2 separate regions of the Homo sapiens genome follow, and region 1 is linked to region 2. A link means that fine-mapping ties the variant in region 2 to the expression of a gene that starts in the linked region. Tissue or cell type: skeletal muscle. Region 2 holds a variant in brackets; the other region holds the start of a gene. All regions are shown on one strand. Distances are from middle to middle.

What was found. PIP is the estimated chance that this variant, and not a neighbour inherited with it, causes the effect.
Region 1: it holds the start of FEN1, and the variant in region 2 is fine-mapped to the expression of FEN1 in skeletal muscle (GTEx, PIP above 0.99).

The regions. Positions count from the first base shown.
Region 1 is chr11:61,789,660-61,797,758 of GRCh38, reverse strand. FEN1 (flap structure-specific endonuclease 1) reads right to left here and starts at 4,848. Exons shown (of 2, transcript NM_004111.6): 1 at 4,731-4,848; 2 at 521-2,418. The coding sequence starts at 2,397. The coding sequence ends at 1,255. TMEM258 (transmembrane protein 258) reads left to right here and starts at 5,160. Exons shown (of 4, transcript NM_014206.4): 1 at 5,160-5,203; 2 at 7,157-7,266; 3 at 7,838-7,974. The coding sequence starts at 5,201. The coding sequence ends at 7,964. MIR611 (microRNA 611) reads left to right here and starts at 5,198; the gene lies at 5,198-5,264. RefSeq lists enhancers at 1,913-2,413, 3,959-4,934, 4,848-5,142, 4,935-5,912.
Region 2 is chr11:60,910,930-60,919,031 of GRCh38, reverse strand. TMEM109 (transmembrane protein 109) reads right to left here and starts at 4,874. Exons shown (of 4, transcript NM_024092.3): 1 at 4,764-4,874. TMEM109-DT (TMEM109 divergent transcript) reads left to right here and starts at 4,969. Exons shown (of 2, transcript NR_186356.1): 1 at 4,969-5,072; 2 at 5,555-5,866. It overlaps LOC124902676 (a long non-coding RNA gene), which reads left to right. Exons shown (of 2, transcript XR_007062688.1): 2 at 1-1,416. RefSeq lists enhancers at 1-195, 2,966-3,015, 4,076-4,245, 3,640-4,638, 5,637-6,635 and a silencer at 4,426-4,585. The variant T/G (reference allele first, on the strand shown) is at 3,562.

The DNA of each region.
Region 1 (8,099 bases), 880 kb before region 2:
CCTGACAGGAATGCTAAAACGTCAGACATTCAAATGGGCCAAGCTTTATCAGGATTATAAAACTTTCAAAGCTCAAAAACATGCCATCTCTATGGGAAACAGTATCTTGGATTTGATGTTACAAAAGGAACAAGAAAATGGTTTCTGAATGGCAGCTTTCAGTTTACAAGTAGTGGCAAAGTAAATGCTTGGATGTTATGAGGTAGTTGATCTAAATTGTGAGGCTTTCTTAAAGGCACTCCTTTGATCTCATGGAGTGAGAGACTAGAAATCTATTCAACGTATTAAAACTCCTCTCCCAGCAAAATAAAATAAACAAAACATCCTCCTCCTAATGGCTGAAGTTCCATCTAGCTGCTATGGCCATTTTATGGAGCATGGTGCCATCTTGTGGCCACTCTCAAACCACCCATTGTTAATCAAGTGCAATTACAGCATGTTAAGAGTGAAAAGGAAAGCTATTTGGAGCCATGGTCACTTGGGATATTTTCAAATGTTCTCAAAGAACATGACATTTTGGTTACTTTTAGAATTTTATTGACTTTTTTCTTCATAACTTTAAAACAAAAACAGCGCATGAAAACCAGTGTCTTATTCCAAAGTCTCAACTCAGCTGATTGCCAGGTGAACATCACCATCTTACTCCTCTGAATAACTAGACACAAATTACATAGCAAGTTCGAGTTTCTGCCCACCCAAGACACAGCCAGTAATCAGTCACAAACACAGACACAGCCAACTCCAGGGGCTCCAGCTTTCTGCCCATCTTCTCTCAGCAGTTCCTCCCATCTGCTAAGATGCGCCTTCCTGGTGGCTCTCTCTCAAGGTGGGTCAAGGCTGAACAAGACAGAAAAGCACAGTCTAGGTCCACCATCACCTCCCACTGGCCACCAGTTGGCCAGCCAGGAAATCATTTCTGTACATCTTTTGTCTCCCCCTTTTATCTCCCTCTCTCTTCTCCAAAACTTGTTGCTATCTATCACTTTCATGTAACAATGGACTTAGTGTCCATTAAACTGCCTGAGAAGTGGTTTGAGCCTGACATATTTTCCTGAGCTAAAAAAGGAAAAGTACCTCTGTGGCCTTCTTGCCATTAAGATCAAGTAAAAAAGGGACTAGCACTACTGAAAAGGGTCACGCTAGAAAAGCCTTAGAATCCTCTCTCCACCCCGTGAAGGTTTCTCTAGCTGTAGCTCTTAAGGGTACAAGACGGCAAATATTCTGGGGTGAAGGAGGTATAATGGGGAAACACATTTATTTTCCCCTTTTAAACTTCCCTGCTGCCCCAGTCTTTGCCTTCTTCTTAGTGGATCCCTTGGGTTCTGGCTCCTTGCGCTTAGCTGAAGAGAGTGAGCCGGTCACCTTGAAGAAATCATCCAGGCGGCCCTGGGTGCTGCCTTGGCGGCTCTTACTCAGCCTCTTGACCCCACTGCGGATTCGCTCCTCAGAGAACTGCTTTTCACCACACATGAACTTGATCAGCTCTTCTTCATTTGGCTCGCTCCACTTCAGCTCCACAGACTCTGGGTCCAGCACCTCAGGTTCCAAGAAGAGCTGGTGAGCCTCCTTGTGGAGCCAATTTTCTGGCACAGGGTACTTGTTGGGGTCAAGTCGCCGCACGATCTCCTCGATGCTCTTGTGCTTCTGGATGAGGTCCACAGCCCGCTTGGGCCCAATACCCCGGATACTCTCACAGTAGTCACTGCCTAGCAGGATGCACAGATCCACAAACTGTTCCTGGTTCAGGCCCAGCTCCTGCAGAATCCGGCTCAGGTGGAATTCCTGGATTGGCAGCTTTTTGGCTTCACTGGCAGTCAGGTGTCGCATTAGCACAGGGCTGCCGAAGGTGAGGCAGTCCATGTCCTCGGTAGCCGCAGCATAGACTTTGCCAGCCTTCACCAGGGCAGCACAGCTGGCCTCTGCCTCACTGGGTGCATCAAGATAAGGGATGCCCATGAGGCTCAGCAGATGTTTGCACTCATCATTGTGCTGCTTAGTGACCTTCACCAGCCGCTTAGTGAATTTTTCCACCTCCTGCTCGGCCCCAGCAGCCTGAGCCTGCTGCAGCTGCTTCTCTGCCTCAGCCCGCCGCTCACTGCGTTTGGCCAGCTCGCCTGACTTGAGCTGTGGCGGCTTGCCATCAAAGACATACACGGGCTTGATGCCGTTCTCCATCATGCGAATGGTGCGGTAGAACATGCCCATCAGGTGGCTGGTGGTCTCACCCTCCTCATTCTGCAGCACATCCCCACCCTGGCGAACAGCAATCAGGAACTGATAAATGCTCATAGAGGCATCAATGGCCACCTTACGGCCAAAGTAGCTCTTGATGTCATTCTCCCGGATGGCACTGGGGGCCACATCAGCAATTAGTTTGGCCAGGCCTTGAATTCCCATGGCAACACAGAGGAGGGATGACTAAAAAAGAAAGGCAAGTCAGAGACGGAGGAAAGGAGAAAGGTTATAACTGGTGTTATCTCACCAACTTCATGCCTTCAACTAAATTCCACACAACAAAAAGGACACCATGTCAGCACTGCTAAAGATAAAAAGATGAACAAGGTCCCCATTCTCAAAAAACTCAGTCTAGCAGGAGAATTTACTCAATAGTAAGGCTCAACGAGTACCAGAAATTGAACCACGTGCTTAGAGAAATAAGATACTGTTGATATTCTAAGGTAGCAGCATTATTTATTACACAAAAAAAACCTGCAACATAGGTCTCCATCAAGGACCACAGAAGGCCAGGATGCTTGGCCTGGCTTGAGGAGTCCAGGGACCATAATGGCAGACCTGAAAGACAGGCAAATACACCAGCTAAACAAACAGATCTGATTTGTTTTGAGTCTCTGGAGAACCCTGACTAATAAGGCAGCCTTGAAAAAGGATTGCAAACATATCTGAATGGAGGTGATGTGGCTTTCTCACAAGCTTCTCTAAACTCTCTTCATCATCGCCTCAGCACATAAGAGTTTCTACTTTTATTATAATGTTGCTAGAGTTTCAAGTCTTTCCCTTTGCGTTTTCTCGCCACCACTCAGTCTGAAATGTTAACTCCATGGCTCCTCCCCAGGTCCTGATTTAGGGGTCTGGCATGCTGTAGTCACTGGGCTCAAAAGAGTATTGCACTTCAGAGTTCAGTGTTTCCCAGATAGCAGTGTTTCCCAAATCACCCTCACGATTTTTGCTACTTCCAACTAAAACCCGTACTTTCATTCACTTAGAATTTTTTTTAAAAAACTAAACTGGAAAACTCATAAGCAATAATATTTGTGTTCTATTAGTTATATTTTAATATGTATTAAATGTATAACTATTAAAAAGGATTTTTAGGGGGTGCAATTTAAAATCATCTTGCCATCCTGGCCAACACGGTGAAACCCTGTCTCTACTAAAAATACAAAAAAAAAAAAAATTAGCTGGGTGTGGTGGTGTGCACCTGTAATCCCAGCTACTCGGGAGGCTGAGGCAGGAGAATCGCTTGAACCCAGGAGGCAGAGAATGCAGTGAGCCGAGATTGTGCCGCTGCACTCCAGCCTAGCAAGAGAGTGAGACTCCGTCTCAAAAAAATAAAAAACTCATCTTGTGCCCACTGTTGGTATGTGTCCAATACTCCAAGAAATATTCTACTGGGGCCAGGCACAGAGGCTCTGGGCAGTAATCCCAGCACTTTGGGAGGCCGTGGTGGGAGGATCACATGAGCCCAGGAGTTCCAGGCTACAGTGAGCTATGATTGTGCCACCACACTCCAGCCTGGGCAACAGAGCAAGACCCTGTCAAGAAAAGAAAAGAAGACAAAAGAAAAGAGAAAGAAGAAACGAAAGACTCCATCAGGCCTTTTCATTGTTCCCACTCTTTCTTCACAGGGTTCTTTCTAGAGCATCAATGACTGTTCAATTCTTCCTTCTAATTCAGTCCAAACACTTCAGCATGGCATCACGATCTTTCATGTTCTGGTTCCCAACCTAACCCTACATTCTGGGATCTCAACAGAAAGCTGGAATAAGGCCCGCCTTTTCCCACTTTTCCTTAGCTGTGCCCTCCTCTCGCCATCCTCTCACGCGTCCTTCCAGGTCCATCCCTGGATTATTAATCAATTAATAATTAATTGACAATGAATTATTCATTTGATTAATATGAATAATTCCCCTGTGAACTGCAGCGGCAAAAGCTCTGGCCTTGAATCTAGGCGCGGCATTTACCATCCGTGTGACATTACCAAGCCACTGAGGTTTATTTTCTCGTCTACAGAAGAAGAACGATTACCATGCCTGTCTCTCAGGGCTGCTGCCAGGGTTAACTGAGACAACAGACAGAAACCTCTAATGTCCCCTCTCCAGGCCTGTTCAACCCTTCGGCTCTTGCCTCAAGCCGGCCGCGCTGCTGGAGTGTGGACTGAGGACCAGACCATGTAGCCCTTGATCCCCTCACGGCGTCCCACAGACAGGTAGGCAGGAAAGGGGCCTAAACAACTCAAGTGTCAGAAATGTTTCTCGTCCAAGGTCTTAGGAAAAATACAACACGACCCCATAAGGTGGAACTTATTACCGCTTTTCTACAATGGAGGAAAGAGAGGCTCGGAGCTTACGCGACTGGCCCAAGGCTCACAGGGGGAAAAGTGGCGGGACCTCTTGACTGCGAATCCCGCGCACTCCAGACCCCGGCTCCCCACGGCCCCCAGCGCCAAGCGGACCCCGTCGCTCCCGGAGGCGCTTCCCATGGGGTCTCACCTGGCCTTTGGGACACGCGGCCTCGGCGGCTAAAGCTTGGTTCGGGGTTGCCCCGGGCAGGCGGTCCTAAGCTCGCTCTCCCTTCTCAGCTTAGCGGCGGGTGGCCTGACGTTCAGCCGCCTTCCAAAGCCCGCGCTCCCGTCACGTGACCTGCTCGCCACGCACAGCCTCTTGGGGCGCGTAGTGCAGGCTGCGTCCCCTCAGACGGCTGCTCTCATGGCAACCAGTCCCTCCAGGGAGAACAGAGTCTCTCAGCGACCCTGGCGTACCCTTCTCCACCGCTTGTCCCCACTCCACCCACACCAGGTCCCCGCAGGCCCCTGCTCCCTCTACACCCGAAATCGCAGGACTACAAGTCCCTCAATGCCACTTGCGCCGGAGGCACTTCCTTTTCCGGTTGTGCTAGGCGCCTGCTCCTGCCGACGTGTTCTTCCGGTGGCGGAGCGGCGGATTAGCCTTCGCGGGGCAAAATGGTGAGAGCGTTGAGGGGAGTTCCAGACGGAGATGCGAGGACCCCTCGGGGTCTGACCCACACCGCGCTTATCTCCTCAGACGCCGGAGATCCAGAGGGCTAGACGCTCCTGGAACCTCCGGCTTGGGCTGAAGGGTGGGGAAGGGGGAAGCCCCTTGCCATGAACTCCTTAGGTTTCTCAGCTCGCGATTTCTAAGGGCGAGAGGCGTGGGGCGAATTTTGAATACCTTCCAGTTTGTATATCTCTGTTATCGGTGGTGTGTTATCTTTATTTGGAAAGTTCTTCTGCCGAACCCGTGCCCATCCTACAATGCCCTGGGCAAATGTTTATTGGTGAAGCACTTCCAACTCTCAGGCACTTGGCCAGACTTTCCTAGGAGCGCCCACAGCCTCTGTACAGATCTCTGGCCACGTTCCATGGACTTCTTTGTTTTCGGCCACGCCTCCTAGTGACCACCGTCTGACGCGCATCTAGCTCTGGGATGATGTCTATTCATCTTTGTATTCTCAGTGCCAAACAGAGGGCCCGTAATTGGAAGCTCAATAAATGGCAGTGATTGTCTTTATCATTTTGGGGGAAGGGGGCCGTGATTGTTTACTGAATTGAATTCCAGTGTCTCAGAACAATGGGGGCAGTTTACTTCTCTAGAGTTGTTATGTTCTGGATTTTAGAAGCATTGGCTGACCGGTGACAATGAAGTTAACATTTGTACAGATCTTTACGTTTACAGCCCTCTTTCATAAAAGACATTATCTCATCATCTTCCCTACAGCCTTAGGAAGGAAGCAAATACCTGTTGAGCAAAATACTCCCTGCTAGGCACTAGATGCTTTGATTCATCATCTTTCTTATTTTTCAGTTCTGTGAAATAGATATTACAGTCGCTTTACTCAGACTCAGATTACTCAGAACCAGAACTTGAATGTCTTGACCATAGCTCACAAGATTCCATAATAGCATAGGTAGTGAGGAAAATACTGAATTAGAAATTGAGGGCCAGGCGCGGTGGTTCACTCCTGTAATCCCAGCACTTTGGGAGGCTGAGGCGAGCGGATCAGGAGGTCAGAAGTTCAAGACCAGCCTGGCCAGCAAGGTGAAACCCTGTCTCTCCTAAAAATACAAAAAATTAGCCGGGCATGGTGGTTCACGCCTGTAATCCCAGCTGCTCGGGAGGCTGAGGCAGGATAATCACTTGAACCCAGAAGGCGGAGCTTGCAGTGAGCCGAGTTGGCACCACTGCACTCCAGGCACTCCAGCCTGGGCGATAGAGCAAGACTGTCTGGAAAAAAAAAAAAATTGAGCCTGGGCGCGGCAACTCACACCTGTAATCTCAGTACTTTGGGAGGCCGAGGCAGGCAGATCACCTGAGGTCAGGAATTCAAGACCATCCTGGCCAGCATGGCAAAACCCCATCTCTACTAAAAATACAAAAATTAGATGTGGTGGTGCGCACCTGTAATCCTATAGTCCCAGCTACTCGAGAGGCTGAGGTATGAGAATCTCTAGAACCCGGGAGGCAGAGGTTGCAGTGAGCCGAGATCGTGCCACTGCCCTCCAGCCCGGGCGACAGAGTGAGACGCCGTCCAAAAAATGAGACTCCGTCAAAAAAAAAAGATATTGAGATCTGGGTACCACCAGTCAGTGACTTATAGCGGGGGTTCTCAGCTTGGTGTCTATAGACACTGGTCCACAAAGCTCCGGAAATTGTAGGCAAACTTTTTCTTGTATGTGGTTTTTCTCAGGCAGAGAGTTCGTACCTTTAGTCACGTTTTCATAGTGGTCAGATTATTGGCCTCAGAAAATGCTAATAAGGGCCATTGATCTGCAGCTACATTTCCGGGCTAAAATCAGCCTCTGTTTCACGGCAGCACCAGGCTCCTTGATAACCGCATGTTCTCTCCAGGCTGAAATCGTGGGATTCTTTGATAGCTCTGATCTCTTTCCCTCCTCTAGGAGCTCGAGGCCATGAGCAGATATACCAGCCCAGTGAACCCAGCTGTCTTCCCCCATCTGACCGTGGTGCTTTTGGCCATTGGCATGTTCTTCACCGCCTGGTTCTTCGTGTATCCTTTCACTGAGCAGCCAGAGGACCAGCATTAGTGATGTGGGAAGCTCAGGGAGAAACCACGCTAGGTACATGGACCCCGCCGGTTTTGTACATTGGATTGGGGCTGAGAGAAGGTAAGGAGGAGAGGAGGGCTAGTGATGCCCAGGGGCAGGTTATAGCCTTATTTCCCAAGTTCAGGTGAGCTCAGTTTGTTCTTTGGATTTCCAGGACAGTGAGCAGGGGACCTGGCTGGAGTGGAGGTGGGGAATAGGGGTGCTACAGTTGGAAAGGTGGTATAAGGAAGGGTGCACTCAGGTGTCAGGAGGTCTGAGGGCTAGTCCCAGCTCCGGCCCTCATGAGCTGTGTGACCTGGGGCAAGTGACCTAACTCCTCTGGGTCTCATTTTCTTCATGGCAGTGGAGCACCAGAGTCCAAGGCATCTCTTAGGCCCCTCTGCCTGGCTGCTCTGAGCCAGATAGGCCTCCCAGAAGGCATTGAGCCAATGCTTTTCTCCTCAGATTGCCGTGGGCTGGGCTCTCTGCACTCCACAGTCCACCCCTTCGCTTTGCCTTAACTGCTGTGCCCAGTTACGAGGTCACCTCTACCAAGTACACTCGTGATATCTATAAAGAGCTCCTCATCTCCTTAGTGGCCTCACTCTTCATGGGCTTTGGAGTCCTCTTCCTGCTGCTCTGGGTTGGCATCTACGTGTGAGCACCCAAGGGTAAGAGCTGCAATGGGATGGATGCGTGAGCCTCCAAGGCACAGCCCAGGGAAGCCTCCCCAGAGTCAGGTCAGCAGGGTCCTTAAAGCTCTTACCAGCATGACCCCTTGGTTGATGGAGACAGA
Region 2 (8,102 bases):
AACCCAAGCTTCTGCTTCCACCCATCTTCATTAGGAGTCAAGTTATACTGTGGGTCTCAACCATGGCTGCTCACTGGAATCACCTGGAAGCTTCCCAAGTACTGATGTCTGTGTCCCCAGCCCAGAGGTTCTGATATCATTGTCTGGGTGTGGCCTAGCCTTGGATCTGCAAAAGCTCCCTAGGCAGTTCCACTGCATGAAGTTGAGAACCACTGATACAGAGTGACCTCACCTCCCCACCCCCAATGGAGGTGCTATGGTTTGAAGAGCAAAACTCATGTTGAAATTTAACTGTTCTTGCACCTCCTGCAGAGCCTGGGAGCTCCCAGTCCAGCCAAGGATGTTGGATCTCATGGTCCTAAGTACTTCTTTGACACCCCATTCCCCTCAGTAAAATAGTTTGACCCCTTCTCCACCAAAAAAAAAAAAAAAAGAAAGAAATTTAATTGCCATGATGATGGTATTAAAAGGTGGGACCTTTAAGAGGTGATTAGGTTATGAGGGTTCAGCCCTCATGAATGGATTAATGCCGTTATCTTGGGAGTGGATTAGTTATCCCAGGAATGCAGCTCCTGATAAAAAGGATGACTTTGGCCTGATTTCCTGTCTCTGTCTCATGTGCTGGGTTCTGCCTTCTGCCATAGGATGACCCTTGCCAGATGCCAGCGCCATGCCCTTAGACTTCCCAGCCTCTGGAACTGTGACCCTAATGAATTTCTGTTCATTATAAACTACGCAGGCAGTGGCATTCTGTTATAGGAAGCAGAAAATGGACGAGGACAGTGAGCAAGGGTATAATGAACAACCTTTAAAGAAATACTATTAATAAAAAGCTAACATTCAGCTAGGTCTTGCCATGCACCACCGCGCTCATTTAACTGTCACAACAGCCCATCGGGTAGGTGTTGCTATTATCCCCCATTTTACTGAAGTAATTGAGGCAGGTTAAGTATTAACTGGGGAAATCAGCATTTGAATGTAGGTACTTCTGACATTGGACCCCTCATACACAACAACTCTGCTGTATTGTCTCCAACTAAGTCTCAGAAGTGATTTAGAAAGTCATACAGGCCAGGCACAGTGGCTCATTCCTGTAATCCCAACACTTTGGGAGGCTGAGGTGGGAGGATTGCTTGAGCCCAGGAGTTTGGGAGCAGCCTGGGCAACATAGGAGACCCTGTCTCTACAAAATAAATATAAATAAATAAATTAGTCAGGTGTGGTGGTGCGTGCCTGTACTCCCAGCTATTTGGGAGGCTGAGGGGGGAGGATCACTTGAGCCCAGGAGGTCACGGCTGCAGTGAGCTATGATCATGCCACTGTATCCCATCCTGGGCAAGAGAGCAAGACGCTTAAAAAAAAAAGTCACACAACAGATTATTCATGAGTTAAAATAAACTTGGCATCTACCAATCATCTCAGTGAATTACTGGTGAAAATTACCTAACAACTTTGTGCTTTGTGCTCTGGTCTTGTAACACAATGCCACAGACAAGTTAAGACCCAACAAGTGCCAACTCATTGAAGCAGGTAAGGATCAGCCAAGAAAAAGTACACAAGTTCAACTTCTACTTGCCACTGTGCTTGAGAAATGTCAGACAGCGCCAGCAAATTCCCTGTTCCCCTCCAGGTTCAGAAATGAACCTGTAGCTCCAGGAGTTTTCATGATTCAGACCTGATGATCAGAGGCTAAGCCATGCCCCTGAGGTAGGAGCAGTCAGGTTTTTGAACTTTTTGCAGTTACACAGGCACTCAGGGAGTTGACAATAAATCCAGAGCCATGAGGGATGGAGAAGGAAGAGAATGATGTCCTAGTCTTGCTTAGGGGGAAGGAGGAGAGTCTAGGAAAGGGTTCTAAAAATACTACATTTAGGGTACTTTTTGGTCCAGAAACAGCTGCTCTAAGCCCTTCCAGAAGCCTGGAGGGTCAAGCAAGGCTGAAAAACATGCAATTCATGTAGAAGGCCCTCAGGCTGGGAAAGCCTTCTACTGTCTTTGGCACAAATCAAGAACCAGATGGTTCCTGCCTGCCAGTGGTCGCAGATGAGGAAAGCACAGGTGAGTTCCTGAGCTATCTGGGTCATAACCATGTTGGGGACTTAAAAGAGCAGGGTTGCTATCTTGGGTTGGATCCTTTATCCAAGGACCTCCACCAGGAGGGATCAAATATCGTTTCCTCAGCCCTAGGAGGTCAGGGTGCCATAAGCTGCTCCTCCCACAGCAGCCTGCCTTGTTCTGTGCCAGCCCCAACTCTCCAGTGGCTGTCTGCCCCAGTTAAGGGGAGCTAGGAGACCTTGAAATAAGCCCTCTGCAGTGAGGCTGGCATCGTTATGCAGACTGATGTTCTGAAGTGCACCAGATACCAAACCTAACAGGATTGTGTAGTGTATCCTTTGGAGATAATGAGTGCAGAGATTGGCTGGCTGGTCTGCTTTTTCAAATTGTTTTCTTTAATAGGATTCCTTCTCATTTTTTTCCAGGTGAATCTCAGGCAGTATGGACTCACTGCTATTAGGCCTCCTCACTTTGGCCTAATCAAATAGTTTTACTAAAGGCATGGAAACAGTCTCAGCCTCTGAGAGGAGGAAGCATGTCTTAAAACTTCTTCACCTTCTGCAATGCCTGGCCTCAGACAAATAATAGGCACTCAATTAACAACTCATAATAATACAAATGTTATACATATCTATACATATACATATGTTATAATAATTTTTGTGTGGTGCTTTATAATTCACAGAGTGCTTATTGTTTCATCACTTCATTTAACTCTAACAACAATCTTTTAAGGTATTATTACCCTCTTCATCTTACTCAGAAAAGTATGGCTTAGAGAGGTTGAGTGACTTATCCAAGATCACACAGCAGAGCTGGGACTTGACTCCAGTACCCAGGATCTCAATCTTGCCTTTTTGCTTGTCCCATACCCGCATGCTGCCTTGATAGTGGACATAGTCCCTGCCCTCATGGAGCTGAAGTTCACCAACAAGCTCAAAGTGGAAGGACATCCAGACTCCTCCGAGGGAACACATACCAGGAGACCATCTGCCTTCTGGGCTTACAGGCCATGGTTTTGTACCAAGAGGTATGAGAGGACAGCAAAAGGTGGGAGACAAAACCTGCCACTTCTGTTCGGCAGCTGCAATATGGCTCAGGTGGGTCTGGAGAGCCCAGCCTGGCTGGGGAAACAGCTTTACTTATTGTGTTAGTGAGAAGGCGCCACTGCTTATGTTTAGCTGTGGTTTGCTACAAGGGTAGGATGGGGCATTTCGCGCCCCCCCCTCCCAATCAAGGCTCCTTCCTCCTCTTCTCTTTCCTTTTGTTAGTTTCATTTCATGCTATGAATCACCAGGTGGCAGGAGGGGCGGCAAAAAGTGCCCTCTACCGGCTCTGACTGTCCCGCCGCTGCTCATAGCTGCCCCTAAGGAGCGGCGGTTCTCAACTTTGGCTGCCCATCGGAACTGCCTGTGCAGCCTGTTAAACAAGGACGTCTGCCCCACCCAGGGCTACTCACTCAGACTCTTCCAGAGAGGGACTCAGCCCTTTGTTTTGCAAAGCTCC[T/G]CAGGAATTTCGGATGCATAGCCAGCAGCTCAGGGAAAAGTCTAAGCAAAGCTTCAAAAGTGCAGCAGTGTACAAAGGACCCCTGACTTCCGTCCCAGGCTCAAGTGTGCCACGGACTAGAAGCTACTACCTTACGCCTGTTACTTAACCTGCCTGAGTTGCAGTCTCCTCAAACGTAAAAGGGAGTGAACCCAGGTGAAGAGTTGCTGTAAGGAGTTAAGATATTTCTGCAGCAAGCGCTTTGTAAACTAAACATCTATAGAAATGTTGCAGCACACACATTACCACTGACTATATATCGTAGCATAATTTAGCAGTTTATCAACCTGCCTTCCCCAGTAGACCGAGCGACTCCCGGTTAGACTTGACATGTTGGAATCCCCAGCGCCTAGTAGGAAAGATGACTAATAAATGTTTATTAAATGAATATTAGCAACCTGCCAAGAAACCGTGAGGGTCGAACGAGAAAGCCATGGAGAGGTGAGGAGGGAGGTTATTTTAATAGTAGATCCAAATATACAGCAGCCACACGAGAAGCACAGCTGAGTCTAAAGGAAGGTCCTAAACAAGGCGAAGCCGCCACTGCAGAGAATGAAGTCAGCGCCCTGGCAGGTTGGGGGCAGCTCCCACTAAACCCCTGACAGCTGCTGCCCAGCAACTGTTTGGGGGCAGGGCGACGGCAAAGGGGCAGCTTCCCTGCCGCTCCGCGCCCTAACCGGGGCGCAGCCTCCCGGAGACAGGGTGTCAGTGGCATGTGCTATTTCGAACGGCGCGTCCCCTGCCAAGCGCTGAGGGGTAGCGTCGCTGGCAAGGAACGTGGCGCGACCCATGAGTTTGGGGCCCCCCGAAGGGCTCGAGCCGAGGCTGCAGGAGGCTGGGCCGTGGGTCGGGGTTCGGGGGCTCGGGCTTGGCGCTGGCCTGGTCCCCACGCCCGGGAGCCGCTCCACCTCTGCCGGACCTCGGAACCTCGCCGCAACCCTCTTCTCCCCGGAAACGTGCGCCTCCCGGGTTGCCTGGAAACGACGCCCCCGGTTGCATAGCAACGGGGATCCGGGTCCCCGGTTTGTTTCGCACGCTGGGCGCGCGGACCCCTCCCCACTCGGACTCTCCAGGCCTCGCGGCTCCGCCTGGTGCCGCCTGCAGCGGCTGCTGTCTCCCCTTCCCGTGCGCTGCCCCACATTCCGACCTCGGCCCGCTCTCACCTTTCTCAGGCCACTGCTATCCTTCACGTGCGACTTCGCTGAAACGCGCCACCAAACCCGCGCCTCAACTCGGGGCGCTGGTTTACCTTCTCCGCATGCGCAAGGCGGGATGAGCTCGGAGACTAGCCGGCCTTCCTCACAATCGAAGCCTGTGCCGGGAGCGCATGCGCCCCGCTTTATCTATTGCGTTTCTTTTTCCCCCCACAAGCATTCCCACCGAGAGAAGAATGGGATCGGAAGTTCCAGCAGGGAACGGAAGTCTCTGGCTGGAAAGGGGAAATAAGTGACTATATCTGGGCTGTAGAGTGGGTAAACTGGATCTTTGAAATCGGAGTGGAAGCTAATCCTCCTCTTGCCACCACTCGGCATTTTGGGTCATGTAGTTCTAGAGCTACAAATGTTCCCTGGGGCATTGTGGGCAATGTAGTTCTAACCGAGCCGCTAACGAGCACCTAGTCTTCCCATACACTTTTCGCGCTAAAAAGGCACAAAAGAGAAAGATATTAAAGGAGCAATTAAAAGCACACTGCTCTAGGAAAACGAATGCGCTCCCCCAGAGAGAAAATTCATACCTGAATACTGTAGACGGCTCCCAAATGTTAGCTCAGAATTTCAGAGAAAGAGAGGAACCAACTCTCACTCTCCTTTTTCTGCCACAAAGGCAGTGCATAGGGACAGGAGGCAGATAAATGCTAGGTAGAAAAGAGCGGGTCCCTGGTGAAACCCCACCCTCAAGCCAAAAAGCCTGAAACCATGGCCCAAAGTGAGAACTTCTATCCATGTTTTTCCAGTTGAATGTTGCCTTTTCCTAAGCCACCCATGGCTCTGCCCTGCCTCATCCTGTGCCTAGAAAGACCCCAGACTCATCTGGCAGAGAGGAGAAGCAGCTGGATGAGGGGACGACCATGGCTGGATGTCAGAGAGAAGCAGCTTGTCTTCAGAGGGACAGCTTAAGGCGTAACTTCTGAGACGAATCTGGCTGGAGATAGCTGGACTTCAAGGGAAGACTACATACCGGCCTGTCCCACCCCCCTCTTTTCAGCTCACCTTCCCTCTGAAATCCACTTTGATCAGCAATAAAATCCCAGGCATTTGTCCTTTAATTTGTTCGTGCAGCTTTATTTTTCTTGGACGCTGGACAAGAGCTCGGGAGCCACGAGTGCGGATACAAAAGCTGTCACGCTGGCCCTCTGCCCTTGCTGGTGGAGGGCAACCGCGGGCCCACGGAGCTGTTAACACTTAAGCTGTCCACGGACGACAGAGCCAAAAGAACACTGTAACATGCCCTCTGGGGCTTCAGGAGCCTCAGGCACTCTGCCTGGACACTGCCCCGGGGCCTGCACGGAGTTCGCTCCTGCCGGTGTCCAAAAGCGCACGCTCTGGCTCCTGCACCCACTCACCTGCACGCTCCCTCCTATGAGGGGTGGAACGCGGTGAATCTTGAGTGAGTGGAGTGTGATCCCACTGGTGCTGAAAAACGGCTGGCTTGTTCCAGCGCTTGTGCACTCCAGTTCCCGCCTTGTTCACTTGCGTACTCCCTCCCATGAGGAGTTGAGAGCAGCGGGCTGAGTAAACGGGGCACCCCTGTTGTGAGTCCTGTGAAAGGTCAGGGCAATATCCTGCTTCAGCAGCACCGTGAAGGAGAATGAACAGGGCTTCAGAATGAGGTGATCTCTTGCCTGTCGTGTGATCCTGAGCACACAGCTTCATTTCTCTGAGCCTTCATTGCTTGACGTTCAAGAACTATAAAGGACCTAAAAATACCACTTCACAGTAGGTGTGAAGTTTCAAGGAAGCAACAAGCATGAACATTAAAAAAAAAAAAAAAAATCCAGGTTGCTGACTGAATGTTTTTATCACCATCAAGAGCTGTCATAGGAGAGCTTCCTTTTGATGTTAAAACTTGTTTCTCAAACTCAACCCTCTAAAACGTAACTCTTCCCTCCCACCCCCAACCATTCAGCCTTCCAGTTCTGCCTTCCTCCTAGAGTACACACTCTGTAGGCTCCCAATCTGTCACCTCACCCAGTTGTTTCTTTCCATCAGATGTTCCTCAGACACATCCATCTTCATCTGAGCTCTTGTCACTTCCTGCCCCTCAGCTAAGAGTCCTTCTTCCAGGACAGGCTCTGGTAGCATCCTAAACCTCACCTTCCAGCTTTTCTAACAGTTTCAATTTTACATTTGCTTGTGCGATCCTTTCTGATGTCTAAGATTAACAATCTCAGGTCACAGACTTTCCTGGGAAAGAAATTTAACCTTTTTTTTTTTCTATGACAAATTAATTTCTTTTCAACTCTCTTTTCCATGTGGGTAGTAGAAACAGTCTCAGACAGTTCAGGGTTCTTCCCATCCTTGATTTTCAGGTCGTAGACACCTTTTGGAAAATGAATATAGGGCCAAAGTTGGGGGAGAAAATGTATCTAATCCTGGCCGGGGGCAATGGCTCACACCTGTAATCCCAGCACTTTGGGAGACTGAGGCAGAGGGATCACTTGAGGTGAAAGAGTTCAAGTCCAGCCTAGCCAAAATGATGAAACCCTGTCTCTCTAAAAATACCAAACAAAACTAGCCAGGTGTGGTGGTGTGTGCTGTAATCCCTACTCAGGAGGCTGAGGCAGGAGAATCACTTAAATCCAGAAGGCAGAGGTTGCAGTGAGCCAAGATCACGCCACTGCTCTCCAGCTGGGTGACAGTGAGTGAGACTCCATGTAAAAAAAAAGAAAAAAAGAAAATTCATCTAATTATCAGTGTCAGTTGTTTAAGCTGGCAACTTCTCCCTGACTAATCTTCTGTCACTTATCCACACAGATTGCTACTGAAGATACCTGGGAAATTAAGCTTCTTTTGGGTCTTTGGCCAATGTGTCCCCATGCTCCCCAGGCAGCAACAGCAGCTTTGGTCTGGGAGGAACAAGGCATAGAGTTCCTTCCTCAGGGACCCACCAGCACCAATGCATATATCTCTTTTCCCTTAACTCTCCCTGTTTCTCTGAAACCAAGTGCCCTGAATTTTTTCTATTCCCTGTGGGCTGGCTTATGAAACGGAAAAGCCTTGACAGGACTTCCTTTTTCCTGCATCCTGCTATCATAGCCATAAACTCCCCAGTAGAGGGACACCTCTGGTTTTGCTCATTGTGATACTACCAACACCTAGTATCGTGCCGGGCTGACACGCTATGGGTACTCAATAAAGATTGGTTCAACAATTAATTACTGAGTCTCCCTCCTTCTAGTCTGTCCCACTCCAACCCATCCAGTAAGTGTCTTCCAGAGGAAACTTCTGAAAGTATGGTTATCACTCCATAGCTCAAATGCAAACACATGCTGTTGTGCTGCC